Linked DNA regions of Homo sapiens. The protein of the gene in region 1 interacts with the protein of each later gene in a pairwise test. Each region holds a gene or a part of one and is shown on either strand. Other genes may lie near its edges. The genes, in order: TXK, DOK2, ZNF792 and ZNF587.

The links.
Region 2: the proteins of TXK (region 1) and DOK2 interact in binary tests that used the Homo sapiens proteins (3 or more experiments, as listed by UniProt).
Region 3: the proteins of TXK (region 1) and ZNF792 interact in binary tests that used the Homo sapiens proteins (3 or more experiments, as listed by UniProt).
Region 4: the proteins of TXK (region 1) and ZNF587 interact in binary tests that used the Homo sapiens proteins (3 or more experiments, as listed by UniProt).

The regions. Positions count from the first base shown.
Region 1 is NC_000004.12:48,123,710-48,131,811, reverse strand, and holds part of TXK (tyrosine-protein kinase TXK), read left to right. Parts: intron 1-8,102. UniProt on the Homo sapiens protein: Non-receptor tyrosine kinase that plays a redundant role with ITK in regulation of the adaptive immune response. Regulates the development, function and differentiation of conventional T-cells and nonconventional NKT-cells.
Region 2 is NC_000008.11:21,909,965-21,918,387, forward strand, and holds the start of DOK2 (docking protein 2), read right to left. Parts: upstream 3,727-8,423; 5' UTR 3,638-3,726; coding exon 3,575-3,637; intron 2,547-3,574; coding exon 2,265-2,546; intron 2,025-2,264; coding exon 1,937-2,024; intron 894-1,936; coding exon 709-893; intron 1-708. UniProt on the Homo sapiens protein: DOK proteins are enzymatically inert adaptor or scaffolding proteins. They provide a docking platform for the assembly of multimolecular signaling complexes. DOK2 may modulate the cellular proliferation induced by IL-4, as well as IL-2 and IL-3.
Region 3 is NC_000019.10:34,955,854-34,962,331, forward strand, and holds the end of ZNF792 (zinc finger protein 792), read right to left. Parts: intron 5,142-6,478; coding exon 5,015-5,141; intron 4,505-5,014; coding exon 4,382-4,504; intron 3,719-4,381; coding exon 2,103-3,718; 3' UTR 501-2,102; downstream 1-500. UniProt on the Homo sapiens protein: May be involved in transcriptional regulation.
Region 4 is NC_000019.10:57,859,089-57,865,949, forward strand, and holds the end of ZNF587 (zinc finger protein 587), read left to right. Parts: coding exon 1-1,052; 3' UTR 1,053-6,029; downstream 6,030-6,861. UniProt on the Homo sapiens protein: May be involved in transcriptional regulation.

The DNA.
Region 1 (8,102 bases):
CAAGGTCAGAACTAAAGAAAATGCTGTAAATTACAGCAGGAAGGATTCGGTTATATATAAAATAAATCACTGTGAGTGTTGAGACAAGGATTTGATTGTCCAAGGGATTAAATAAGGGACTACCTATTGGCGGGATATTTTGAGGATTATTCTCTCTGGCATGGATTTGATGAAATCTCGTTCTCCTTTCCAGCTTCTGTTAATTTGATTTGATGGTAAGAATCACCTGTTGTCTACTGTATATTGCAGCTGAATGTGGCTACATTTTCTGCTGGGTAAAACAATGAGTGTTTACTATTGACAAGGAGACAGCTAAGTGATGCCTCAAGATGTATTACTGTTAATCAAAAAACAAACAAACAAACAAAAAAAGTCCAGCGAAGAAGATTGCTTAAGCTGAGGAGTTTGAGGTTGCAGTAAGCTGTGACTGCACCACTCCACTCCAGTCTGGGTGACAAAGTGAGACCCAGTCTTTTAAAAAAAAAAAAAAAAAAGTTTATATGTTTGTTAGGGTCATTTGCCAAAAACATTTGTTGTTTTAAGCATTGTCATAGAATCCTGGCTTCAAAGGCTGCTATAGGGTGGGAGAAGATAATTGTGGAGCGTGGGATATTGATCATACTGATGGGAGATTTGGAGTGGGGTCTCAGGGCACTGCTCCAGTGAGATTCAGTTTGTGAAACGTACTTGGTATTGCCAGCATTTCCATCAACTCACAGTTGCCCTGAGAACAGATCCAGCCTAGAAGAGTTATTTAAAGGACAGGGCAAGGGAAAGCAGCTGGGGGCTTAAAGAATTCACCTCTTAGCTCCCCTGTTTGCCTAATTTCTCTGCCTTTCTTTATTCCCAACTTAGAGAGTAGAAAGAGTGGTTTCTAAGTCTTGGTGTGCCTGAAGCATGCCTGGGGTGCTGTTAAAAGGCAGGTTTCTGGGCTCATCTCCATAACTGGATCTGAGGGTAAAGTAAGGATGTTTTGGTCACACTGCCTTTCTTGGGCCTCTCTTTTCAGAGTCCTATCTTACTCCTTTTTGTATCTGATTCTCACACCAACTTTGTTAGGTCAACACCTTCCATTATTACTATTATGAATATGAAGATAAGGAGGGTAGCTGTGGTAGGCAGCCTCTAAGATGGCCTGATGATATCTGCCTCCAGATATTCACGCCCTTAGGCAGTCCTCCTCCTTGAGTATGAATTGGACCTAGTACCTCACTTCTTGTGATTAGAATATGGTAAAAGTGATGGAACGTCACCTCTGAGACCAGGTTACAGAGGTGGCGGCTCCCATTCCTGCGATCTCGGGCTTTCTGTCTCCTGCATCGCCGGCTGCTTTGTTGGGAGCACTCTCAGGCAGCCCGCAGAGAATCCCCATCACGAGAAACCGAGGCACCATGACCTGCTTGGAATTCGCTTAGAAGTGTATTCTCCAGCTCTGGTTGGGCCCAGCTTGACTGCAACTCCATGAAAGATCTGGAGACACAAGCACTCAGCTAAACCATTCCAGAACTCCTGGCCCACAAAAGTGTGAGATAAGTGTTGTAAGTCATTTGGTCTCAGAATAATTTGTTTCCAACAATAGATAACTAAGTGTGTGGCAAAAGCAGGAGAAGCCGCAGATTAAAAAAGAACTTGGCCACTTTGGCCACCCTTCTGCCTGGGGCTGGAGTTTGATGCCCTTTCTGAAAGATTAAAATGGACACTAGATGTGTCTTTTCTTTTGTCTTTAAATCATTTCAGTTTTTAACTCGTCACTGCAGCTGCCTTTTGTAACTACTGCAGATCCCCACATTTCTCCTCTGTGGAGCTCCCCAGGCCAGCAGTGCCCACACTCCCTGCCCACCGAGGGTCAGTGAGCAGTACGGCTTCTGGCCCAGTGCCAGCCACGCCCGTGTGCCTTGTGGCCAAGCACTTCTTCACATCACAAGCTGGCTCGATGTCTTGGGTGTGATGTCTGCGAGCTTATTATGAACTTTGAGCTCACAGAAAACAGTGTTCTAGGAAACACTGTTTTGAGATGTGGGGGAGTGGGGAAGTTGTGGGCAAGGTGCCTGCAAAGACCAACTCACATCAGCCCCTTCTGAGAAAGAAAGAAAAATTGCCTCATAGACCAAACAAGGGTTTGGGTGGCTGCTGTCCGTGTCTGGGGAGTTGCCCTGGCAGAAGCTGGGAAACAGATGAGCGGTCATCATCAGGAAGATTTCTGCCTTTCCTTACAGCACCTTTTACTCCCAGAAACATTGTCTTCCCTGGTGCCCGGGACTCCATCCAGCTTGCCAGGCTTCTAGAATCTCCTCACCCCACACAGCACCCCTTCAGGCCATAGACAGGTCAAGCACCACTCTTCCACTCAAATTGATCAGTTTGGTGTCCTGTTAGCTAGGTACTTGTTTTCTCTTAGTCACCAGTGACTCCCCTAAAGTAGTTATCCTCCCTTCTTTAAGGTTTCACTGGCAGTATAATGTCAAAAAAACAGAACAGTCAAGGTCTAACACAAATTACTCACTTATTTTATCCATACATTTAGAAAAACTAACATCTCTGGAGACCATCACTTCTTAGAATAATGGACATTTTAGTATCAAAAGGAAAAGTGCACACACGTGCGAACACAGACACAGGATCACTTCAGACCCCAAATGTATAAAGGGCATAAACTCAGAATAAAGGATAACTTTCTAAATTGAATAAATATGTGAAAAACTCAATGTCCCAATTTTACTATTTTCCCCTCTCCTTGGTGTGGGGTCTTGGTTTGGTGTCTAACTCCAAACCAAGAAGTCTAACTCCAACTTGGAAGTCTTTTCTAACTCCTGTTCAGAGGTAGAAATCCATCCATGCTATAGCCAAGCTAGTTATGTGTCACTCTCCCCAGATAATATGGGTTAATGTGGCTAAAACGTGCCTATCTTCAAAAGGCCCTTAAGAAATGGGGCCTTTTGAAGATAGGCTGGGCGCGGTGGCTCACGCCTGTAATCCTAGCACTTTGGGAGGCCGAGGCAGGTGGATCACGAGGTCAGGAGATCGAGACCATCCTGACTAACACAGTGAAACCCCGTCTCTACTAAAAATACAAAAAGAAATTAGCCGGGCGTGGTGGCAGACACCTGTAGTCCCAGCTACTCGGGAGGCTGAGGCAGGAGAATGGCGTGAACCCGGGAGCAGAGGTTGCAGTGAGCTGAGATCGTGCCACCACACTCCAGCCTGGGAGACAGAGTGAGACTCCATCTCAAAAAAAAAAAAAAAAAAAAAAGGATGTAGTGGTGGGCATTTATGGCAGAGTAATGAGGAAGTTTGGCCTTTCTGTAAATTTCTGGAAAAAAAAACAAAAAGGATATGTTGCAGCAAACTTACAGAATCAGCTCTGGTCACCCAGAGCCATTTTTCCAAAGCCACAAGTTTTTAAGGCTTTCCCCACTCACCACAGCCCATCAACTGCAAAAGCAGCCGGTATCAGACATTCCTCATCTTAAAACCACAACCTGGAGCGCCTGGCTTGGGCAACAAGCCTGGTCTTTGGGTTAAGGCAGCTCTCAAAACTGAGCCAGTTTCAAGCCATGTTTTTAAATATAAATCACTAGCCATGTGCCAGTTATTATGATGACCAAATTCAGTAGGAATGCATTTCACTCAAGGCACTGATTCAAAACGAAACCCTGACATCGGAAATGCCAGGGGATGAACTGGAGGTGACGATGTAAACTTCAAAACATTAGACATGAGGAAGCGACAGCGGCTTTGCTTCCCGCGCAGCCCGGGCCCCACAGTTCTTCACATCTGTTCCTTTGTCCTCTTCAGAGATGACCTTAGGAGCTATTCTGAGAAGGGGTGCTTCTCACTTTTGCTTTCTTCCAGTGCCCCCTGGTGGAAACCTGTTCCCAATCAGCCCAGCTGTTGCCACCCAGGAACCTCTGGGGGTGGAAGGAATGTCAATAGGAGCCTCTCCTAGAGGACAGAGGGGCGCAAATCCTTCCAAGGAAAAAACACAAATACCAAAGATGGGAGGGCCAACTGCCTATCCCATGACAGATGTGCCGGTTTCTAAAGGTCACAGAGATTACATCTGATGCGATGCCCTTTTTCTGATTTGCTGGCCTGAGGCTCATCATTAGAGATATTTACTGAGGAATGAGAAGTAGATGAAAAGAACAGCGCAGATGTAAGCCTGGGAGAGGAAGCTCAGCTCCTTCAGTGATAATCTTCAAGCCCGAATATATTCTTTCCACATTTCCTTCCAGCAGGCAAATAGTCATTGCCTATCTCTGGGGCATTTTTGTCACTCTGGCAAAGGCCCTTGATATGCATGAGTTCCTGCCTAAGTTGGGAATTTGCTAAAAGCTCAAGAGCTTTCCCTCTGCAGGTTAATCGGCAAAACAATTCAAAGAATGGCTTCTGTAATCACAGAATGCCTGTGGAAGGGCGCTGTCTATTTACTTACTGGGAACACCTGTGCTGCTGTAAATTGAAAATGATCATGAAATGAATACTCCTTGATACCTGCATTGGAATGAATTTTGGCCCAACACTTCAACCTGTAAATAAAGATGCCTGCTGTCTTGGAAAGTCATGCCAAGCAAGGGAACACCAGGGAGCTGTTTGGCTTTCATAGTGTGATTTTTCTTCTCGCAATGATTATTTATTGGGCAGCAACTCTGCTGGGCAGAGGATGGAACCACAAACAAAGCAGTGGTTTGCCTTCCTGCTCACCACTGTTCTTGGACTTTGAGGGAAATTAAATAAAATTGGGTCATAATTAAAGCAGTGGTAGGGTAGGTCTGTATCTTTCTTTAAAGGCCATTGTCTTTGCTATTGAATCAGGAAACATAAGAATTTTTGAAAATATTTTCTCCTAAATTCCAGGCTGCAGAAGACAGTGAAGACAACTAAGGGGAATATTATCAGGTGTGGCCATGTGTTGTGAGGTCAGGGAGCTGGGGGAGGCATTTCTCTAGTCCCAGATACTCCTGCCTGCTGACTGATAACAGCAATTTCTCTTTCAAAGTTCTTGACTTGGCCAGGCATGGTGGCTCCTGCCTGTAATCCCAGCAGTTTGGGAGGCCAAAGAGGGGGATCACTTGAGGTTGGGAGTTTGAGACTAGCTTGGCCAATGTGGTGAAATCCTATCTCTACTAAAAATACCAAAAAAATTAGCCGGGTATGGTGGAGTGTGCCTGTAGTCCCAGCTACTTGGGAGGCTGAGGCAGGAGAATCGCTTGAACCTGGGAGGCGGAGGTTGCAGTGAGCCGAGATCATGCCACTGCACTCCAGCCTGGATGACAGAGCAAGACTCCATCTCAAACAAAACAAAACAAACAACCACACACACACACAAAGTTGTTGACACTTGAATAAGGTGGTTCCCCAAAATGTAACTACTCATAGCCTAACATTGACCAGAAGCCTCAATAACATAAATGTTGATCAACACGTATTTTGTATGTTATGTGTATCATACACTGTATTCTTACAATAAAGTAAGCTAGAGAAAAGAAATGCTTTAAGAAAGTCATAAGGAAGAGAAAATAGATTTACTATTCATGGAGTGAAAGTGGCTCATGATAAATGCCTTCATCCTCGTCATCTTCATGTTGAATAGTCTGAGAAGGATGATGAAGAGGAGGGATTGGTCTTTCTGTCTCAGGGGTGACAGAGGCAGAAGAAAATCTTCATGTAAATGTTTATACCATGTTTTTCAAGTGTCAAACTATTTAAATTTAATGTGTTGTGATGGTTAATTTTATGGGTCAACATGGCTTGGCCATGGTGCCCAGATATTTGATCAAACATTATTCTGGATGTTTCTGTGAAGGTAATTTTTGGATGAGATTAACATTTAAATCGGTGGACTTGGAGTACAGTGGGTCACCCTCCATCATGTGAGTGGGCCTCTCCCACAGTTGAAGTCCCTAATCAATGAAAGTCAGACCTCCCCTGAGCAAGGAGGACTTTTGCCAGCAGACCGCCTTTGGGCTCAAACTGCAACTCTTCTCTCATTCTTCAGCTTGCCGGCCTGCCCTGTTAGATTTTGGACTTGCCAGTTTCCACAACTGCCTGAGCCAGTTCCTTAAAAGAAACCTCTCTCTGTGTTCACCCTGACTGTTACAAATGTCATGCTTACAAACATGTACACGCCTCTGCACTGCAGTAAGCATGACATTGCTGAAGCGCTGCAGTACAGCATGTTTACTATTTAACATTGTGTCTGTCATTTATACCTTACTGAGAAAAAGTGTGAGAGCCTCTCCTGAGGCCTGCTTTGATAGCAGGGAGAGAGAGTCTCCTGGAGTCCTGAACGGGGGAAACATCTGCCTTTGAGTCAGGGATAAAGTTGGCTCAGAAGAGAGGAGTTGGAGCTGAAGATTCGCTTTCGTTTACTAAGCCTTCTTCCTCCATTTTGTCTTCAGAGGGAAAACCACACCTGCTCCTATTTGGTTACCTTAAATGTATTTTGTGAGTACCCAATAAATAGTTGCTGAATGAGTTCTAGGGAACTGGGGGATGGGGACAAAGTGGTAAAGTAACTGAGAGTAGCTGGTATGTTCTAGCCATGTTTGCCTCTGCAATCTTATTTAATCTTCTCATCCACAAGGATAGTCCTATTGTGATGCTCATGGACTCTGGGTTTGACTTCTGGCTCAGCTGCTTTTTATGTGACTGGATAAATGGCTGAAGCTCTCTGTTCCTCTGTTTCTTTATGTGTAAGATGGGGATCATAATGTTAGTATAGTGAGTAAGTTAGCATGGCGTAGTATAGTAAGATCTAAGTATCTGTCATGCCTGGCATATGGTAAGGGCTGTGTTGGTAGAAGTGGGGAAACCCTTTCTTAGAAGACAACTTTTATTACCTACGTTTTCTAGATTTGATTGCCCAAAATCACATTGTTGCTCCAAGAAAAGGGAACAGTGATTTGAGTGCATGTCTGCCTGATACTAAAGCCTGCTGAACCCCATATGTTCTTTTAATACAGAAAAGAAAAAACAAACACATTTGAATGCCAGAGAGTTTTTAATAATTTCATTTGGCATCTCATGGTTTGGTACTTTATTTTGGATAAGCATTTGTTTAAAAATATATGTCTGGAATAAAAGGTTAGACTTATGAGCCCCCACAAATGCTGGCTAAAGCTCCGGAAGCTCAGTCTTCACCTTTGCCGTTCCACTCAGTCAAAAGGTCACGGTCAGCTTAGCTTTCTCTGTGGCCAGCATCACACTGTGAAATACTGGGTGATAAGATGAATGAGTGGAAAAAAAGAAGAGCTCAGATGTAATGTAAGGGTGTTGATATTGGTGGGGTCTTATTTAACAGTTATTTATTGAGCTTTTGTTATGTGCCAGGCACTGATGCTAGAAGCTAGGGAGAAGACAGAAAAAAAAAATTAAAAATAAAAAAAAAAGGATAAGATGCAGTCCCTGAGATTGAGAAGCTTACAATCTGGTCCAGTGTCTCCACTGGGGTTGATTTTGCCCCCAGGGAACATTTGGCAATGCCTGGAAACACTTGGGTTTCCACAATTGGAAGGTGGTGGTGGTGTGGGTGTTAGAAGGGAGGGGGTTATGTTGCTGCCGGCATCTAGTGCATAAAGGCCAGAGATGCCCTAAATATTCAGTGGTACACAAGACAGCTCCCCACAATAAAGAATGATCCTGTCTAAAATGTTGATAGTGGTGAGATTGGGAAGCCCTGTGAGAGATGAAGCCTACACAGAGAAACTTAAATGACGATCTCAGGTGGTACCTAACTAGGAACCACAGGGCAGGACTGTGCTTTGGGACAGGACATTTGGGACAGGGCATAGGTGCTTTGGGAACTGAAAGGAAGAGTACATGGGAGTGTATTGCAATGGAAGTCTTCCTTTCCAGGCTGGAGGCAGAAATGCACGACGTGTCTGTGAGAACAGAGCAAACAGAAGAAGCTGGTGCAGCAGGAATTGGTGAAAGCTAAAGTAGTCAGGGTGGGGTCACTTATGGAAGACCTTGAAAGTGGGGGAAGATATAATGCTGAGGATGAAGAGCAGTTGGCTGAAGCAGGCTTTTAGGGAAATGGGTATATGGGGTGAATCGAAGGAGACAGCTCAGAGCAGAGACTCTAGATTCAGGTTCAAATC
Region 2 (8,423 bases), on another chromosome or scaffold:
CCACAGGGCAGGGGTGCATTTTTTTTTTTTTTTTTGGAGACAGAGTCTCACTGTGTCTCCAGGCTGGAGTGCAGTGGCACAATCTCAGCTCACTGCAACCTCCGCCTCCCAGGTTCAAGCGATTCTCCTGCCTCAGCCTCCCTGGTAGCTGGGACTACAGGCGCATGCCACCACGCCCAGCTAATTTCTGTATTTTTTGTAGAGACAGGGTTTCACCATGTTGGCCAGGATGGTCTCGATCTCTTGACCTCATGATCCACCTGCCTCGGCCTCCCAAAGTGCTGGGATTACAGGCACGAGCCACCGCGCCCAGCTAGGGATGCTTTCTTAAACCCCATCCCTAACCCAAGCCCTGGGACCTCCAGCTTCCCTTCATGGGAACTGCTGGAGCCTCCTCTGCCCTCTGTGCTTTCCCCTACAGGCAGAGACTTGGCTCTCTCCTCTCCCCTCTCCAGGCCCTTCCTGCTCACTGCCACCATTTCAAGGATGGAGCTAGGCACTAGTTCAGACGCTGTTTACCCCTCTACGGTCTCTCCACCTCTTCTCATTCTCCTTCCTTCTACTCCACTTCTGCCATCTTGTCACTCTATTCTTTGCTTCACTCCATCTCCCTCTCCTGGTCTCTCCCATCCCCTCGCTGCTTCTCACCCCTCTTTGTTCGTAGCTTATCCTTTCTCTCAACCTGCCCTGATGCAGCTTCCCACTCACCTTGTCCCGCCCAAAGCGCCGCAGAAACCTGTAGGGCCAGTCGTACAGCTGGGTCCCTGGCTCGGGCCCACCCCACAGCTCCAGGGCACTCTCCCCAGCCCGGAGGGTATAGGACCCCCGCAGGTGGCACCTCTCACTGGCTTCTGTAGGTCTCATGGTCACAGCAAATTCCTTGTGGGGGCCGACTGGGGAGAAGAAGAGAGAGAAGGCGAAGGCAGTTAATGGGAAACAGCTGGCCTGCCTCACCACTGCCCAGTTCTAAATGAGCGTACCAGAACTTTTCTAGAAAGTATTATCCACACACTTATGGCCCCCTGCCTGGGTCTTGGAGGCTGAGCTGCTCTGTGCCAGGTCATACTCCCCAAAAGGCCAGGTACCTCCACCCCCTACCCTAGTAGGCATCACGCCCCTACCCACATCCACCCCAACCTCGTGCCCACATCCTTCCTGCCCCTGTCGCCAGAGCCACAGTCTTGTCTTCCCCACCCCATCTCTCACCCCAAACCAGCCACCACCCTAGTCCCTACGGTCACAGCTGCAGGTGAAGCCTTGGCCCTGCCCTCCCACTGCCGGGGCCCTGGGGGTGAAGCTTAGATGGAAGGCAGATGAAAGTTTCTCCTCCCTCCACCAGCTCCTCAAAAGCAACACCTGGGGCCAGGCGCAGTGGCTCATGCCTGTAATCCCAACACTTTGGGAGGCTGAGGCAGGTGGATCACCTGATGTCAGGAGTTTGAGACCAGCCTGGCCAACATGGTGAAACCCCGACTCTACTAAAAATACAAAAAATTAGCCAGGCGTGGTGGCCGACGCCTGTAATCCCAGCTGCTCAGGAGGCTGAGGCAGGAGAATCGCTTGAACCCGGGAAGCGGCGGTTGCAGTGAGCCGAGATTGTGCCATTGCACTCCAGCCTGAGCGACAAGAGCAAAACTCCGTCTCAAAAATAGAAAAAAGCAGCACCCTCACCTGGGCCCCCAGCCTTCCCCTCTCCCACCAGCAGGCCCTAGGTAAGATGAGGTGAACCAAGGGAGAGACTCAAGGCAGGGTAGGCTCCCTACGTTGGGCTGCACCCGGAAGCGAGAAGGAGAGGCTGATAACGGGGCTGGCCCAGGCTGGGGATAACCACAAGGCAGGAAGACTCGGGGCCAGCAGCTAGCCAGCCCACACCTCCTCTCCACCTCACCCTGGGGAGAGCCCCCAGGGGAGAGCAGGGCAGCCCCCGCCCCCTCACCTGTGACTGCGCTGCTGTACAATTCATTTTCCTCCATGCAGGGCCGGCTCTGCTTTCCCTCTGGCCCCGAGAGCTCCTTCCTCTGCCCCTAGGGAGGAGGCGCCCCGTCTCATCACCTTCCCCGATCCCCAGGCCCCCCTCTGGCCCAGGCCTTCTTTCAGGCCACCTCAACCTGCTGGCTCTGTCTGCACACTGGGTTCGGGTCCCCCCACATGGAGGAAGCACCCCATCACCCTGACCTTGACACCTGTAACACTTGCCCACAGGAAGTATCTAACACCCTCGGCCTGCACGCCCCCTTGCCCTTTCCGCACCCCGCGCGACTCACGGGGAAGGCCAGGAGGCAGATGGCCTGCACCCAGTCGCCGCGCTCCGCTGCAGGGGCCGCCAGGAGGTACAGGCGCTCCTTGGTCTCCAGGAAGAAGGCACTGGTGTCCCGGGGGCTGCTGGCCTCTCCGCCGGCCTCGGCCACCCGCAGGCAGTCACTGAGGCGGATGACCTTCCGGGCAGCCTCACACCGACGAGGCTTCTCCGGGCCCTCCTGCAGCTCCAGCCGGGCCAAGGCGCAGTCCGACCCTCCATACAGTGAGGCGCCGAAGCGGCGCCATTTCTGTGCCAGAGGCGTGGGAGGCGGGGGCGGGAGGGAGCCACCCAGAGACGGGGAGATCGTGAGCCAAGGGGAGAAGAGGAACCGTGGGAGGGGGACTGGGGCAGCCACTTGGAGATGGGGAGAGAGAGGTGAAGATCACATGAGACCCAGGGAGGCAGAGAAGAGGACAGTGACTGCAGGAATTAGAAAATCGGAGATCAGCCGCCAGCCCCGAGAAGGAGGCCCACGAGCAAGAGCAGAGACTGCCCAGGCAGAAAGCAACGCCGGGATGAGCCCAAAGCAGGCTGCAAGAAGGCCAAACAGGCCCACCGCAGTGGACTCCAGTCTGGGGAGGAAAGCGGGGCAGTGGCCGAGGCCCAGAGGAGGGAGTGAGGAGGGCGGCGTGTGACCCGGGCTGGAGACCTCATTCTCCTTCTGTGCGAAATCCTGAAGGAGAACTTCTCTCCACCCTCCTGAACCTTGCTGCCTCATTCCTTGATAGGTTGGGCCATGAGAGAGAGACAGGTGTGCCCCCCAGTGTTGGTTAGGGGACGAGGACTTCCTGGTTCAAGGAGGCCAGGGAAGGGGAAAGAGGATGGACAGCCGGCTGGGGTCCAGGCCCCCAGAGGCCCCAGCCCAAGCTGAACACCAGCCACATGCACCCCACTGGGGTTGGGAAGGAACCTCTATTGTCATCCTAAACTGTCCCTCCAGCTGCCCCTTCCATTCCCTTCCAAGGTGTCCGGTGAAAAGAAGTCAACATAGAGCAAGAGAGCAAAAGAGGCAAGAGATGAAAGCAGCACATCCCCCACCCCCACCCAGGGCAAACAGCCCTCAGTAAGGAGCACAGTTTGGGACCTGGTTGGGGCCTGGTTCAGGAGACAGCGTCGGGTAGGAAAAGAGCCCTCCCAAAGTTGAGCTCTGGGTCTAACTTGGTGGGTGCACAGTCAGACCTATAAGGGTTTTGAATATGAAACTCCCTCTCCAACCCAGGAATTCTAGCAGCCTCCCAGGCCCCCTGCCCAACCCCAGCCCAGCCTCACTCCTACCTTTCCAAACGTCTGCTGCTGCTGAAGATACAAGAAGCCTTGTTTCACTGCCCCGTCTCCCATCCTCTGACCATCTCGGAGCCCCAGGCTTCAGCTCTCTCCTTCACTCCTGCCCTTGCCTCTCTCTTCTTAGCCGTGTGTTTCCCTTCTCTGAAGTTCATTTCCTCTCTGCCTAGGGTTTTCTATACTATTCTAGTCTGCTCGATGACGACAGGCTGATAGGCCCTGCGGTTTCTTCTGAGTGTGTGTTCTTTTTTTTCTTTTTTTTTTTTTTTTCTGAGTGAGTTTTATACTCAAGCTTCCTGCATTTCCAGTGAGTTAGAGACAATTTCCAAAAAGCTAAATGCCAGCTCTTCAGTGAGCAACAATTCAGGTACAGAAGTTGGCACAGGGAGGCGCCAGCAAAGAGTGGCTGGCCCACTGGAACAGAGACCCAGAAACCAAACTAGACAGTGAAATCAGTAGTGAAGGCCCCCCCCTCCAAGCTGTACGCAAGTTGGAAGGGACAAACCACTAAGTTACAAATAAGGAAACAGGCTTGGAAAGTCTGAGGGATTTATTCAAGGTCACCAAACCAGAACCCAGGTCTCTCAACGCTTAACAGCTGAATGACACACACGGCACTGCACAGAGAGACACATAAGACAGCTCATGTGGGCCTAACCAGATACCAGTTTCACAAACACACACACACAGAGAGAGAGAGAGAGAGAGAGGCAACCGTTTAACTACATGCGAGCACTCCCTGTCTGCCAACAACACACACTCACACCAACCCTGTAAAGATTCTAGAAAGATGATCATCCCCTCTGGAGAAGGGACTGACTCCCCAAGTACATCTCAACTGTTGGATTTTTGCCTTCTTGCAAGCATTCCTGAGCATTAGAAAGATGCTTAGGTTTCATCTGCAAATTATCTTAAGTTTCAATAGCAATCACTTTCATATACATTTTGAAAATGGTTCAGAGTTACCGAAAGTGCTTCGTAGCTCGCAAAGCTTCTAGGCACACACTTTTCATCAGCCACGCCATCCTTTGACAAAGGCAGGGCAGGTATGAACACACTTATTTGCAACTTGCCTGAGGTCACAGAGGTAGTTGGGGGCAGAGGAAGAAGTAGAGACCAGGGCTCCTGATCTTTAATTCAACATTTTGCAGGGCCCCTAAATGGAATCCAGATCCATGCAAAAAGATCCATTGCTGTGGGGAAATCCAAGCTGCTCAGAGAAGTTTAACTTAAAGCCAGATGGTTTAGAGAAGCAATCTGTATGGAGGCACAGTGCAGAAGGGTTGGAAAAAACTGAGACTCAGACCAACACTCTTGGGGTTAATCCCATAACAGGTGCTTATATAAACAGGCCCATTTCCTCTACAACAGGGGTTCAGTTACCGTGGCAAGGAGCGAGCAGCACCGTGCACAGCTTAGGCCTTCTGCTGTACATGCCATGGACTGGACCAAATAAGCTTGAAAAAAATGAATGTCATGAGCTCTGTGAGGACAAGGATGAGTCACTTCAAACTCACTGCCCTCAGCCGTGATGCCTGGGTTTGAAGAGGTTGATCCAAAGCTCAAGGGAGAACCAAGCATACTGTTTTGGGAAAAGCACACCTTGGGAAGTGGTTAGGGGTATGGAAATGGGATGTGACCTAATCTTCCTCTTTAGTCCCTAAGGAGAGTCAACTCTGCCTGGGAGCTGCATGGTCTTTGGTGCAGGGAGTGAGAAGAGGAGGGCTTTATGGCCATCTTAGGGGCTGCCAGAGCAGTGCCTTCCAAACTGTAACATGTAGATCTTGTTCAAAGTAGACTCCAATAAAGTAGGTCTGGAATGAGCCCTGAGATGCTGCCGGTGGTGGGTGGGTCAAAGCACACTGAGTAGCAAGGTGACAGAGGATGTCCCCTGCTAACCTGATCGCCTTCCCTGAAGGCAAAATGGACACATTCCACTCAGAACCACAGGGGGGCACCCAAGTTTACCAGATTACTTGAAAGTTGTTTAAACCCGGAGGCCTGAACCCCAGGCAATCCAGACACTCCCTTGTCATCCCTTGCTTATGGAAGCTGGAGGAGTTCTCCGGTAGCCGTTGACTGCAGAAGATAGGGCAGCAGAGTATATACCAAGAGCAACACCCTTGCAGTCCTTCTAGGCCCCTTCAACTGTCCCTAGCAGGATTTGTGGCGACCCTGATGTAGAAGCACTAACCCCAGTACCTTCTGCCTAGCCATGGGGAAACCCTGTAAACAGGAGCCCAGAGACATTGCTCCAAGACACAGCAGAAGCGCACAGAATGAGAAGCCCTTAGGGTCCACAGGCACCAATGATGTGTAGAAAAAGCACTGTAAAGGAGTTGAGGGTGCCTCTTGGCTTGTCTTTGTTTTTACGGGAAAGGAAAAGGCACTCCAAACCCCACCTGTGGCTCATTCTAAGCCACTGGGATCCTGTCCCTTACAACAGTTTCTCTCAGCAGGAGTCAGGAACCACAGCTCCAAGAAATTTTCATTACTATTCTGCTGCAGTGATTAGCAACCCAATCCTAACATAAGAGGGCTGGGACCTTGTCTTTGGGGCAACAAAGGAAGGAGGAGAGGAGACTGTGTCTGACTCCTTGGGCCGGCTTGGGGATTAGGTAACCCTCAAATGATGTGCAGGTAGGGAAGCTAGCTAAGGGGTAGTTCTGGGCACACAACAGGTAAGTACGTATAGGATAGGCAGAGAACTGATGTGGGCCTGAGACGGGTGAAGGACTGAGCGAAAGAATTAGTGAGCGTGTATTCTGAAGGACCCCATCCCTGCCCCTTCCACCCCCAGTGGTCCCTGACTGTGGGGTGTGGGAGGGGGACAATGCCAGTCTCTTGAGCTTCATTTGTAGCCCCCCACCCTTTCTCCATTAAGTCTATCACTTTTCTCAGTACTAAGGAAAGAGAGAACCCAGTTCTAGAAACCCGCTGAGAGGAAGGGCCTATAACATAACATAACATAACATAACATAACATAACATAACATAACATAACATAACATGTTACCTAACAGTGACATAATATTTAGAATGCTTTATGTCTTCATATGAAACCCACATGCACCCTAGAATGAGACATAAAGAAGTTAATACATTCAACAGTTTTTTAAATTTATTTTTATTTATTTTTTGAGATGGAGTCTTACTCTGTTGTCCAGGCTGTAATGCAGTGGCACGATCTCGGCTCACTGCAACCTCCGTCTCCTGGGTTCCAGCCATTCTCCTGCCTCAGCCTCCTGAGTAGCTGGGATTACAGGCGCACACCACCATGCCTGGCTAATTTTTTGTATTTTTAGTATAGACGGGGTTTCACCATGTTGGCCAGGCTGCTCTCAAACTCCTGACCTCAGGTGATCCACCCCCCTCAGCCTCCCAAAGTGCTGGGATTAAAGGTGTGAGCCACCATGCCCCGCCTCAACAATTATTTACTGAGCATCTACTCTGTGCAGAGGTACTAGGGATACAACATAGACAGAATCCTTGTTTATACTATGTCTGCTTTTAGTTGGAGGGACTGATAATGAAAGAGTAATAATATGTAGTTTTGGACAGTGATCAATGCTGTGATAGTGATAGGCACAGGGGACAACTTTCAAGAGGGTGGTGAGAAAAGGCTCTCTGAGAGGTGACAAGTGAGCTGAAAAGTCCATGAGGAGAGTGAGCCAGCCATTTCACGATCTGAAGGGAAACCAATCCAGGCAGAAGTTACTGCAAGTGCAAAGGCCCTGAGGCAGGAGATCCTGGCTTTGCAGAACTGCAAGGCCAGAATGACCACAGAGCATTGAGCCAGAGGGGGCATGGTAGAGTGAGGTCAGCTCATACGACCTCTTGAGCCACAGCAAAGATTCGAATTCTAAATGCAACATGAGGCCACTTAAGGATTTTAAGTAGGAGTGTAAATTATCTGAATTATGATTTTAAAGGAATGTTCTGGCCAGGCGCAGTGGCTCACACCTGTAATCCCAGCACTTTGGGAGGCAGAGGCGAGTGGATAACCTGAGGTCAGCAGTTCCAGACCAGCTTGGCCAACGTGGTGAAACCCTGTCTCTACTAAAAATCCAAAAATTAGCCAGGTATGGTGGTGGGCGCATGTAATCTCAGCTACTTGGGAGGCTAAGGCAAGAGAATCGCTTGAACCAGGGAGGCGGAGGTTGCAGTGAGCAGAGATGGCGCCATTGCACTCCAGCCTCGGCAACAGAGCAAGACTCTGTCTCAAAAAATAACAAATAAATAAAATAATGTTCTGCAGCGTCCAGCTATATGGAAAATGGGTTATCAAGGGGCAAGACAGGAAGCAGGGAAACTAATTAGGAATCTATTACCAGAGCACAGGAGAAAGGTAATGGTGGCTTGGACCAAGGTGTTAACAGTGGAGATGGATGGAGAAGTGGTCATATTGGGTATATATTAGATATAGATTGAACAGGACTTGCAGGTGACTTGCATGTTGGGGACTGATAAGACTTGAAGAACCAACTCCTGAGTGTTTATTAGGAGCAACTGGATGAATGGTGGTACCATTTACTGAGGAAGGGAAGACACAGGGAGAAACACGGGGAGGTTGGGGTGCGGGGGTGGGGGAAGGGAGGGTGGACAGAAATTTGGGCCTGGCCCACTGTGAAACTGTTACCTCTATTCAGTCCAGTAGGGAATCCAAAGAATTTCCATTGCAATTGTGACTCTGAGAATATTTCATTGCCCGATGCCAGGTTCAGAAAGCCACTGACCCCATCACCCCGCCTCTTTATACGCTCGGAGCTAATGATTGGACGCTGGGAGGTTTTGGGGAAAAACAAAAACCCAACATCTGAAAAGGTCTATGCTCGCTAGAAGTT
Region 3 (6,478 bases), on another chromosome or scaffold:
AGGAAATTCTGACATATGCTCCAACATTGATGAACCTTGAGAATATTATGCTAAGTGTGAAATAAGCTAGCTACAAAAAGACAAATACTTATTATTCTACTTATATGAGGTACCTAGAGTGGTCAAATTCATACAGACAGGAAGTAGAATGGTGGTTTTGAGGGGCTGGGGAAGGGAAAATGGGAAGTTATTGCTTGACAGGTACAGAATTTCAGTTTTGCAAGATTGAAGAGTTCTGGAGACGAATGGTGGTGATGGTTACATAACAATACGAATCTACTTAATACCATTGAAGTATACACTAAAAATGGTTAGGATAGTAAATTTCATGTTAAGTATATTTCATCAGATTTTTTTAACATTTTTAAATAAACCATAAAAAACTATGGTGCACTCACCCAGTATAGCACTACTCAGTAGTAAAAGGAATGAACTATATATACACACAGCATGGATGATTCTCAAGATAATTATGCTGCATGAAAGAAACCAGACCAAAAGAGAGTATAAATACTTTATGATTCCAATTGTGTTAATTCTAGAAAAGGCAAACAAATCTAAAGTAAAAAATGTAAATCAACGGTTTCCTAGGGAAGGCAAGGAGGGAATGTAAAGGGGCATGAGGTAGCTTTGCAGGTGATGGATACGTTCATTATCATGATTATGGTATTGGTTCCCTGAGTGTACATAATATATGTACAAAACTTACCAAATATGAATAATTATTGCATGACAATCACATATCAACAAAGCATTAAAAGAAACTGTTGCACATAAAAATCCAACTTCCTACTCATTTTAGAAAATCCGATTTGGCAACCCTATATTGACTCTGTCATCTCTTTCTTCTTGCCTTGGGAGCAAAGAATGGCTGGCTACGTCATAGATACTACAGTCCCTATAGTATAGGATCTGCTTTTTCTCAGTCCCTATTTTCCTGCCAGCACAGCACTGGCCTTCAGATGCACAGCACGGAGATGGTAATCCACAAAACCAAAACCTTTAGATTATTTGCTCTGCCAGTAACATTAGTCATAGGACAGAGGTCTGAGGTCCTGAGAATTTCTGCAAACCCTGAATCCTGCACAGCCACATTCAAGGGAGCATTCACGGATGCACATTTAGCAGAGTTCCATTTCTGCTGGTTTGCTATAATCTCGCCTACTCCCTATTAATCACATCCAGTGTTTCTGTACAAATTATGGTCCCAGCTGGGCCTGGTATGTCTTACAGTTAAGAGATACCTGCCTAATGCTGAACTTCAGGGCATATGGCTCCTTGGCAGGTGCTAAACAGCATCTGCTTTACAGTATTGGGGAATATGGGGCACCCCCTGGGAATAAGGGACCCAATTCATGCTGTTCCCACATGCACTGGAGGTTGTCACAACTGCCCCCTCCTCGGGATAAAAATTCACGCCATTCAGACCACAATATTATACCCATAAATTCCTACAATTTTTCCTAGGAGGCCTTGGTGGCAATGCAAATGAGGTCAAATCTGGATTGACAGTTGTTTCTCTGCCATCCTCCTGTCCCCTCCAAGATAATCTGGAGACCCCTTCAGTTTGGTAGATCTTAACTCTGCTCTTGAACCACCCCACACAGTGATCAGAACATGGAAGACTAAAGGCGGCTTTATCATAAGGCCATTATCATCACATGAACCAGGGCAATACACAGGAGATAAGTTGTTGTGTAGAGTAACATGAAGGCTGGACAAATCCTTCACAGGCATAACATGAGACCAACAATGTCCCAGAAAAAGGGAAACCTTCTCTAGAACAAGCTGTTGGCAAAACCCTGCTCAGGTCTTCACAGCCAAAAGCTGGTCATGTCCATGGCTAAACCAGCCATACAGGGCGGGAATGACATCTTCCCAAGGCTTCAGACTACTCCTAATTCCCTTTAGGGATTGGAAAGAGAGAGGAGAGGTCTGCCTTCCCTGAGCACAGTGGAGTGGTGGACACACTCTTTGGAGAGCTGCAGTGTGTGGTGCTGACATGGCTTCTATCACAACCCCAGCAGTGAAAAAACGCTGATAAACTCTACAGTAAGAGAATGTAACTTGTCTCCAGAAAGCTTCCAACACAGCTAGCATTCCTAGGGAACCTCCCCAGGGTGGGTACTTGGATGAACAAGTTTCAACTTGTAGTTGACAGCGCCCTGATAAGGTCTGTTCTCAGAGCTTATCTCTGGTGTGTGCTGTGAACAGGGAAGGAGCACATTCTCCATGCTCCTTTCTCTGATGTGAATCTTCTGATGCCGAATGAGGGTAGGCCTTTGGTTGAAGGCTTTCCCACATTCGCTGCATTCGTAAGGCCTGTCTGGTTTGTGAACTTTCAGGTGCTGCCTCAGATTGGACCTCTGCCTGAAGGTTTTCCCACATTCGCTGCACTCATAAGGCCGCTCGCCGGTGTGAAGTCTCCGGTGGTTATTGAGGCTGGAGCTTTGGTTAAAGAATTTCCCACATTCACTGCACTGGTAAGGCCGTTCACCAGTGTGAAGTCTCCGATGGCTATTGAGGCTGGAGCTCTGGCTAAATAACTTCCCACATTCATTGCATTCATAAGGCCGCTCACCAGTGTGAACTCGCTGATGTTTCATGAGGTCAGAGCTTCGGCTGAAGGCTTTCCCACACTCACCACACCCGTGAGGCCGCTCGCCAGTGTGAACTATCTGATGTTGAATGAGGCTGGCAATGTGGCTGAAGAATTTCCCACATTCGTTACACTTGTAAGGTCTTTCTCCAGTGTGAACTCTCCAATGTTTAATTAGGCTGGAGTTGCAGTTGAAAGATTTCCCACATTCACTGCACTCATGGGCACTTCTGCCCGTATGAACCCTCTTATGATGAATGAGGTTGGAACGCTGGCTGAAGAACTTCCCACAGTCGCTGCACTCATATGGCTTTTCACCAGTGTGAACCCTCTTATGCTGAATGAGGTTGGAGCTTCGGCTGAAGAATTTCCCACAGTCACCACACACGTGAGGGCTTTCACCGGTGTGAACCCTGCGATGTTTAACAAGGCTGGAGTGCTGGCTGAAGAATTTTCCACATTCACAGCACTCATACGGTTTTCCTCTATTGTGAACTTTCTGGTGTTGAGTGAGGTCAGCGGCGTAAGTGAAGAAGATTCCACATTTGCTGCATTCATAAGGCCTTTCTCTGCTGTGGATTCTCTGGTGCTGAACAAGAGTGGATTTGTTATTGAAGGCATCCCCAGATTCACAGCACTTGTTATGCCTTAGTGCAATGTGAAAATCCACCACACCTTCGGTGGCCTCGTGCGGCTCCCCATCGCTGGGAGTGACCTCACACTGCAGAAACCCTGCTGTGGCCACAAAGTCCTTCCCACCCTCCCTGCAGGTGGAAAGCTGATCTGATGTGTGGTCTCTGCAGGTCTTTACAGGGGAAGCCTGGCCCTCCTCCGTTCTGATAGGGTTGTGTACGTTCTGCTGCACCTGTTTCCGGGGAAGGTTTGCACTGAACTCAGAGCCTTTCACATATGCCTCACACACAAATGGTTTCTGCCTGGGATGTGTTGTCTGGTGTTCAGCCAAATGCAAAATGTCTTTCAAACGTAGGCCACATATGTCACAGGGGCAGGTCTTCTGGGGGCACAGAGTTGCCTCGGGACTCCTGTCCTGTGCCACTCCTTCTACAGAAACGTTATGCTCAGAAGGTAAGTCCTTGCCCTCTGTTCCATGGCAAAAATCTGAAAGCAGAGAAATGCTGGTGAAGTTCGTATAAACTTTAATAGAAGGAAAGAGCCCCATCACCTATGCTTGGCTGACCCAAGAATAAGCCCATGGGATTGTTGGCAACACAAGAAGGCTCAGGTCAGGGTAAGGAATAATCTGCTCCGCCATACTGTGCCTGGCCAGGTCACAAAATACAGGAGGCCTTATCAGGACCAGGGACACAAGGATGGGGGACAGTATTGGGCAGAGAGGCAGGGTCTCCCACTCACTTCTCTTTAAAGGCCTTTTGGCAGGGCCTGGGCTGCTGGTAACCTGTGAGGGCTATGCAGTGAGAGCATCTAGACCCAGCAAAACCTGCAACTGAGTAGCTGGTGTTCAAGCACATCAAGGAAAAGCACGTATCTCACAACACATTAAGTGTAGGCCAGTGTTGGAAAGTGCCGCAGAGGAAGCTGAAAGAGAGAAACGGAGGCCAGAAAAGTGGGGCACAGCCAAGGGGCCCAACTCAGAATAATAATGACAAGTAGATAATGTGTCAAGCACGGGGAAGGAAAAGCAGAGACGTGGTCTGGCTACTGGCATTGGTATCAAATGATGATGAATAGGAGAGAAGATGCTGGTATGATGTAAACACAGTGGTGAAGTCACATCCTCCCCTAGCTCCCATCGCTGCTTACCAGAGCCAGGCCTGCCATAAGCCCCTCTGGCCATGGCTGATGTCATATCCACACTGTCAGGCACCCAGGGCTCTTTCCCCATCTCCAACTGGGAAACGATGTGGGACCTGAAAGATATAAGTCCTAAGGGAAAGACAGAGTGGGTCAGTGGCCAGCACCTGCCCAGTTGAACTACCCCATGATAGACTACAAGACAGGAAGCTCCGTATGACACAGGGACATTGGGTGGTCACGGCAAGCAGTAACCACATCAGTGATTGGAATTCCTGGCACAGTCAGGCTTAGGAAATATTAGCAAGAGGAAAGGCACAGAATCTAAACCACAGAACTGTCAGATCTGGATAATCACCCAGGAGGGAATGGCCGAGTCAGAGGTAGTCACACAGCTAACCGCAAGACCCCTCATGCCTGGAGCTTCCCTGCAAGGCTTCAGGCAGCAGGTGTGGGGGCAGCTCAGGGAGAGGAGGGAACAATGCACATAGCTCAGCCCCAGAAGCCACAACACACATACCAGGAAAGTGGGGATGGAAGCAGTGCCAGCGGTCTGGCTGTGGGAAGGAAAGAGCTGTTTCTTGGGCAAAGGGGACAGGCAGAGAGGAGCTCGGGACACCGGGGTAGGGGTGACAGCCTTACCCAGCGAGGCTATAAGTGCAAAGTTTTCCAGCATCACATCGCAGTACAGGAGTCTCTGAGCCTCATCGAGGAGCACCCACTCCTCCTGGGAGAAGTAAATGGTCACGTCCTCAAAGGTCACGCAGCCCTGCCATGATGGGGACAGTTCGTTCCATGATCAGTCTCTGTCCTTGGGACTCCCTATCCATCCCCTGCTCACTCTCCTCCCCAGCTCCACAGCTCCAGGAGGTAGCAGGCCCTGGTTCTGTGGGCGCCTCATGTGACCACTGTGTCAGCCCGCAGCAGCAACAGGCAGGGTGCAGAGAGGCACCCTCTAAGCTCTGGGCCTGAAGTCCAGGGCCCAGCTCGCTCTTCTGCCAGCCTCTTCCCCTAGTGTCACCAATGTCATGCTTCTCAGATACAAATGTGGGCTTCTCCTTTAAACCCCAGTCCAGAGCCCTGGGGTGAACAGCTCATACTCCCTCCCACGTGCGTTTCACTCTTTGGACTGCACCACCCTCACAGCTCCAGACCTTCACCACGGCCTCCCATTGCCACTGCTACCTTCTCCCCATCCTGGCCCCTATCCTAGCCATCTCCATGGGCTCCCACGAGTCACTCTGCACATGGCATCCAGAGAGTGCCTGGCAAACATAAGCACCATCCCAGCCTGCCCCAGACCTTTGATGGCCTCCACTGCCAAGGGCAACACCCAGGTAAGGGGGAGAGGGAGCGCTCCACCCTTGCCTTGGAGCCCCCTAGCTCCCCTGGCCTGGCTTCAACCTAAGCCACCCACGGCACACATGGATGTCACATACACTTGGCCTTCTTTGTTGCACATTCTGACCCTGTCATCACTCACACTCATTTAAAAAAGAAAAAAAAAGCCAACCCCTCTGGCCATCCTACCCCCACCCACCTAAGCCCAGCAACTCTGCCAACTGACTCCTCTTGCCCCAAGCTAATTCCCCAGCCTGAGGACAAACCCCATCAAGGGTCACCACAGAAGCCTGGTGAGAACATAGGTGAGTGTGTAAGCACCAGCCCAGGCCTCACTGCAATATTACCTCCTCTACTGCTAAGCCTCAGCATCCATCTCATTCATGTCTACACTCTTTGGGATGATCTGGCCACCTGCCAGACCCTCTGATACACCCACATAGCCCCTCCATCACCACCATGACCACTACTGTTCCTCACCTGTCTTTATGATGCCAAACAAGCCACAGTCCCCAAGCAAGAACCCTGCTCTCAGTTTTCCAGCCCCACCTTCCTCTTTTTTTTAACATCATTGTCACCATGACCTGAAGTTTCACCTCCTAAATCTCACACACAGCTACACTCCCGTCCACACACCAGATGTCACATTTTGGATGTTTCTAACTGTTGAAATAAACAAAGACCAATGAAATGAGAAAAGCCAAGGCTACTTACTCAAAGCTCACTATAGCAAGAGAGACTCAATGCAAGCCGGGAGTGGGAGAG
Region 4 (6,861 bases), on another chromosome or scaffold:
CAGTTATTCCACACCAGAAACTTTTCACTAGAGATGGATGTTATGTGTGCAGTGATTGTGGAAAATCCTTTAGCAGATATGTCAGCTTCAGTAATCATCAGCGAGATCACACTGCAAAAGGACCTTATGATTGTGGAGAGTGTGGGAAATCTTATAGTCGAAAGAGCAGCCTTATTCAACATCAGCGAGTCCACACTGGACAGACAGCTTATCCCTGTGAGGAGTGCGGGAAATCTTTTAGTCAGAAGGGCAGCCTTATTAGCCATCAGCTTGTTCACACTGGAGAAGGGCCTTATGAGTGTAGAGAATGTGGGAAATCTTTTGGTCAAAAGGGTAACCTCATTCAACATCAGCAAGGTCACACTGGAGAGAGAGCTTATCACTGTGGGGAATGTGGGAAATCTTTTCGTCAGAAGTTCTGCTTTATTAACCATCAGCGTGTTCACACTGGAGAAAGGCCTTACAAGTGTGGAGAATGTGGGAAATCTTTTGGTCAAAAGGGCAACCTCGTTCACCATCAGCGAGGTCATACTGGAGAAAGGCCCTATGAGTGCAAGGAATGTGGGAAATCATTTAGGTACAGATCCCACCTCACTGAACACCAGAGACTTCACACTGGGGAAAGACCTTACAATTGTAGGGAATGTGGGAAATTATTTAACAGGAAGTATCATCTTCTGGTTCATGAGAGAGTTCACACTGGAGAAAGGCCATATGCGTGTGAGGTATGTGGGAAATTATTTGGCAATAAGCACAGCGTGACTATACATCAGAGGATTCACACTGGAGAAAGGCCGTATGAATGCAGTGAATGTGGGAAATCATTTCTTTCCAGCTCTGCGCTTCATGTTCATAAAAGAGTTCATTCTGGACAAAAGCCTTATAAGTGCAGTGAATGTGGAAAATCCTTTTCTGAATGTTCCAGTCTCATTAAACACAGGAGAATTCACACTGGAGAAAGGCCTTATGAATGCACCAAATGTGGAAAAACATTTCAGCGAAGCTCTACCCTCCTTCATCATCAGAGTTCACACAGGAGAAAGGCCTTATGAGTGCAGTGAATATGGGAAATCGTTTGCTGAAGCATCCCGTCTCGTTAAACACAGGAGAGTTCATACTGGAGAAAGGCCTTATGAGTGCTGTCAATGTGGAAAACATCAGAATGTCTGCTGTCCTCGGTCTTAAGCGACTTCGTGTTGAGATGGAGTCTTGTTCTGTCACCCAGGCTGGAGTGCAGTGGTGCAGTCTTGGCTCGCTGCAACTTGGGCCTCCTGGGTTCATGCAATCCTCCTACCTCAGCCTCCTGAGTAGCTGGGATTATGAGTACACACCACCACGCCCAGCTAATTTTTGTGTTTTTAGTGGAGATGGGGTTTTACCATGTTGGCCAGGCTGGTCTCAAACTCCTGACCTCAAGTGATCCACCCACCTTGACTCCCAAAGTGCTGAAATTACAGGCATGAGCCTCTGCACCTGGCCTTCATTCTTTTCGTATTGCTTAGAATATGACATGCTGAACCAGGCATGGTGGCTCATGCTTGTAAACCTGATGCTTTGGGAGGACAAGGTGGTTCATTGGAGGCCAGGAGTTAGAGATCAGCCTGGGCAACATAGCCAGACCTCCTCTCTACAAAAAGAAAAAAGAATGACATGCTTCTTGTTTTTGTCTGTTATAAATGAAACTGCTATATTTGAATGCAGTTGTTCATGTAGGTATGTTTCACTATGGTAATATGGTGGTGTGCAGTGCCTGAGTCACGTGATAGATTAAAGTACAACTCTTTTTTGAGACAGAGTCTCACTCTGTCACCCAGGCGGGAGTTAGGTGGCATGATTTCGGCTCACTGCAACCTCTGCCTCCCAAGTTCAACTGATTCTTCTGCCTCAGCCTCCCGAGTAGCAGGGATTACCGGTGTGCACCACCATGCCTGGATAACTTTTTTTTTTATTTCTATTAGCAATGGGGTTTCACCATGCTGGCCAGGCTTGTTATGAACTGACCTCAAGTGATCTGCCTGCCTCAGCTTCTCAGGTGTGACCTACTGTGCTTGGCCTAATGTACAACTTTTTAAGCAATGCCAAACTATGACTTAAGAATGAAATTATTGCTCATTTGTATATCTATCTACCATCAGTGTCCAAGAATTTCTGTTCTATCTTACCAAGAGGGAGTATGGTTAGTATTTGAAATTGTTTATTATTTTAATAAGTGGTTATAACTTTTGAGTCAGTGGTTTATGTTTTGCATTTTTTTTGTTTTGAGACAAAGTCTCGCTCTGTCTCCCAGGCTAGAGTACCGTGGCACAATCTCAGCTCATTGCAACCTCTGCTTCCTGGGCTCAAGCACTCTGCCCACCTCAGCCTCCAGAGTAGCTGGAAATACAGGTATGCACCACCACAACTGGATAACTTTTGTATTTTCTGTAGAGAGGGTTTTACCTTTTTGCCCAGTCTGATCGCGAACTCCTGGGCTCAGGCGATCCACTTGCCTAGGCTCCAAAAGTGCTTGGTCTACAGGGGTGAGGCACCCTGCCTGGCCTCACCTGTAGGCTTGTTTTTTAAAATGAATTTTATCTATTTCCCATTTCATTAATATATTTAAAAATAATGAAATAACAAAGACGTATGTTGGACTTCATTCATTCTTCAGTGATGTCACTTTGCTGCAAGGAATATTTGGTTTTCTTTTTTTTTTTTTTTTCCAGATGGAGTCTAGCTCTGTCTCCTAAGCTACAGTGAAGTGGCATGATCTCGGCCCACTGCAACCTCCACCTCCTGTGTTCAAGCGATTCTGCCTCAGCCTCCTGAGTAGCTGGGACTACAGGCATGTGCCATTATACCTGGCTAATTTTATTTATTTATTTTAGTAGAGATGGGGTTTCACCATGTTACCCAGGCTGCTCTCTACCTTCTGAGCTCAAGTGATCCACCTGCCTCGGCCTCCCAAAGTGCTGGGATTACAGGTGTCAGCCACTGTACCTGGCTGAATACTTGGTTTTCAGTACCACAAGAACTATGAGCTGGTTATCCACTTCATGTGGAATCATAAGCGTCCCAAAGTGACAATACATATAGATTGCCAGGCAGTGAAACAGTTAAGATGCCACCATAGCTTTCTTTTCAACATCTTTCTAAGATTACCTTACTATTTCTTTTGTTCCAAGTTTGTACTTCCTCACAGTTCTCACATATGGAAAGGATACACACTTTGTAGAAACAAGAACTTTATGTTATCCAAGTTCTAGGATAGCCATGAGCTCCAATTATCTCAGAGCTCTGAGTCCTCTACTCAATACCCATTGAGATTTATGTGTTCTGAGGCTTTTGTCTTCTAGCTACTTACTTCATTCTCCATGGGTAACGTCATTCATCCACATTAACTAATTTCCTCACTCCAAGCTCTTTTCTAGAGATAATCTCCAGTCCCTGTGCAGAAACTGTCATTGCACTTTCTGCTGAAATGGCAGTTTCTTCTCAGCAAGGTGAGATTATGGAATCCAGAATCTTTTTTCAGGGGTCACATGCCCATTTCCCCACTTGCATGAATGTCGACACTGCAGCCACAGTTTTGGCCGTAAATGTGAATTTGGCAAGTAACCACTGTTCCCAGGGAAATGTCCCAATCAGAAGAAGATTATCTGGGACACTGATACTGACAGGGAGATGGGACATTCTGAGGGACCCGGAGGCAGGGTGCCACCTCCTCAACTTCCCTGAGGGCTGCCTAGAATCTGTTTCCTCTCACTCTGAATTATTCTTCCTCTTATGGCTGACCAAAAACATGGAACCTCACAAAGTCCACTGTAACAGCTTTATATTTGTGAAGTGAAGAACATGAAGACAGTTTCAAGCAAAGTTATTGAGTGGACACTTTGTGTTTTTTTTGAGAAGTCTCACTCTTTCACCCAGGCTGGAGTGCAGTGGCACGATCTCGGCTCACTGCAACTCCACCTCCCGGGTTCACGCCATTCTCTTGCCTCAGCCTCCTGAGTAGCTGGGACCACAAGCGCCCACCACGTCAGCTTAATTTTTTTGTTTTGTTTCTTGAGACAGAGTCTTGCTCTCTTGCCCAGGTTGGAGTGCCGTGTCGCAATCTCAGCTCACTGCAACTTCTACCTCCTGGATTCAAGCACTTCTCCTTGCCTCAGCCACCTCTTTAGCTGGGATTACAGGTGCGTGCCACCACACCCAGCTAATTTTTGTATTTTTAGCAGAGACCAGGTTTCACCATGTTGGTCAGGCTGGTCTCAAACTCCTGACCTCGTGATCCACCCACCTCGGCCTCCCAAAGTGCTGGAATTACAGGCGTGAGCCACTGCACCTGGCCTGTATTCTTTTCTTTAGTAGAGACGGGGTTTTACTGTATTTGCCAGGATGGTCTCGATCTCCAGACCTCGTGATCCGCCCGCCTTAGCCTCCCAAAGTGCTGGGATTATAGGCGTGAGCCAACACGCCCTGGCCACTTCTTGTCTTTGCAACATTTTTTAGATATGTATTTGTGTTTTTTGGGGAGCTTAATTTGCTAATGGAATCTCTGTTATTTTCCTAACATGCTTGGTGGATACAAGAGTTAAGACTTCCTGTCCCGTTTAGTGTAACAAAAGAAAGTTAAGAAATGTGGATAAAAGATTGTAAGTTAGAAATGGCAAGATAATCAGCTATATGAAGAATCTTGGCCAGGTGTGGTGGCTGAGGCCTGTAATCCCACCACTTTGGGAGGCTGAGGTGGGCGGATCACAAGGTCAGGAGTTCAAGACCACCCTGGCCAATATTGTGAATTCCTGTCTCTACTAAAAATACAAAAATTAGTCGGGCATGGTGGCGGGTGCCTGTAGTCCCAGCTACTCGGGAGGCTGAGGCCAGAAAATCGGTTGAACCTGGGAGGTGGAAGGTGCACTGAGCCAATATCACACCAGTGCACTCCAACCTGGTGACAGAGAGACACATCATCTCAAAAAAAAAAAAAAAACTCAATCCATAAATGTTATACTTTATAACTTTATAACAGCATGTTATATGGGCTTAGATATTATCCCTAAATTTTTTTTTTTTTTTTTTTTTTTGAGACAGAGTCTCACTCTGTCACCCAGGCTGAAGTGCAATGGCATGGTCTCGGCTCACTGCAACCTCCGCCTCCCAGGTTCAAGTGATTCTCTTGCCTCAGCCTCCCGAGTAGCTGGGCCTATAGGTTCCCTCCACCACGCCCAGCTAATTTTTGTATTTTTAGTAGAGATGGGCTTTCACTACGTTAGCCAGGCTGGTCTCAAACTCCTGACCTCATGATCCACCCCCCTCGGCCTCCTAAAGTGCTGGGATTACAGGCATCTGCCACCGCACTCGGCTTATCCCTAGAAATCCTATGATAGCATGATGTATAGGCACCTAAAGGCATGGCACTTGAGAAATGTGAATAAGATTGTAAGTTACAAATAGCAAGGTACAGTCAGATGTTAACAGTCTCAGCCCCTAAATGTCACCTTGTATTACAGCATGTTATATAAGCACATACAGGCACATACATGAAATAGTGATACTTCATTCTCAGTAATATCTTCATCCTTCTCACTGGAAAGATCTTTGATGATTTTTAATCAACATAGGAGTTTCAATGATATCTAGAAGTTTAAAAGGGCTCGTTCAAACAAATTATGACCACACACACTGAAGAGTATGTTTGTCTCTTGTGGTGTAAATTTTTTTTTATTACACCAAATTATGTTCACACAAAACCTTTGTAATCAGGGGGAATTAAAGAGCCTTCCTGGAAAATGGAGGTTGCAATCAGCCGAGATGGTGCCATCGCACTCTAGCCTGGGGAATAGAGTGAGATCCTGCCTCAAAAAAAACAAAAAAATTCTTTATTTTCTCCATAAACTACAGTTTATATAAGCAAAAGTTTCAGTACTAAGCAATTTTAGTCTCTGCAGTCTCTTGTCTTGAATTAATACAACTTTTGTTAATTCTCTTATGAAGTTAATCTTCCTGCTTGTATGTGAATTAAATATATGTCAAACTTTTTTTGTACAAAAGATTCATACCTCTTTCCTGTTTGAAATTATTTTACTGTGTTTCATCAATCTAATGTTTATTTTTATTACACCAGTAATTTCCTCATTGTGTTGAATCTTACAGTGGCTTATAAATCTACATGTACCTAGAAATGTTTAGCCAGTCCATGTATATTTGATGTGGCACATTTTTTCCTTTGAATCACATACTCTAAGAGAAGTAACTTCCTCTTGCTAACCTCTACTTTCCCTAAGTGTTGAATTAATCCTCTTTAGATGATTATAATTCTCTTTTCAATAGCTAGAAAGAATCTATAAGGAACTTTCCTGGCTGGGTGTGGTGGCTCATGCCTGTAATCCCAGCACTTCAGGAGGCCGAGGTGGGTGGATCACGAGGTCAGGAGTTCCAGACCAGCCTGACCAACATGGTTAAACCATGTCTTTACTAAAAATGCAAAAATTAGCACCTGTAATCCCAGCTACTCAGGAGGCTGAGGCATAGAATTGCTTGAACCTGGCAGGCAGAGGTTGCAGTGAGTTAAGATCGTGGCACTGCACTACAGCATGGGCAACAGAGCAAGACTCTGTCTCAAAAAAAAAAAAAAGAAATCACAGTCCATGTCTGAGGGGTGTACATTGCTTATCAATTTGGAGAGAAAATAATAGATAATGTAATACAATGTTAAAATAGATTAAAAATTGAGATAGAAAAACTGCTCAATTTATGCTTCACATAAAATTGAAAATTAAATCAAGCCTACACATAAAGGCATTTTTTATATATATACATATATGTGTGTGTGTGTGTATATGTACACACATATATACGTATATATGTGTGTACATATACACA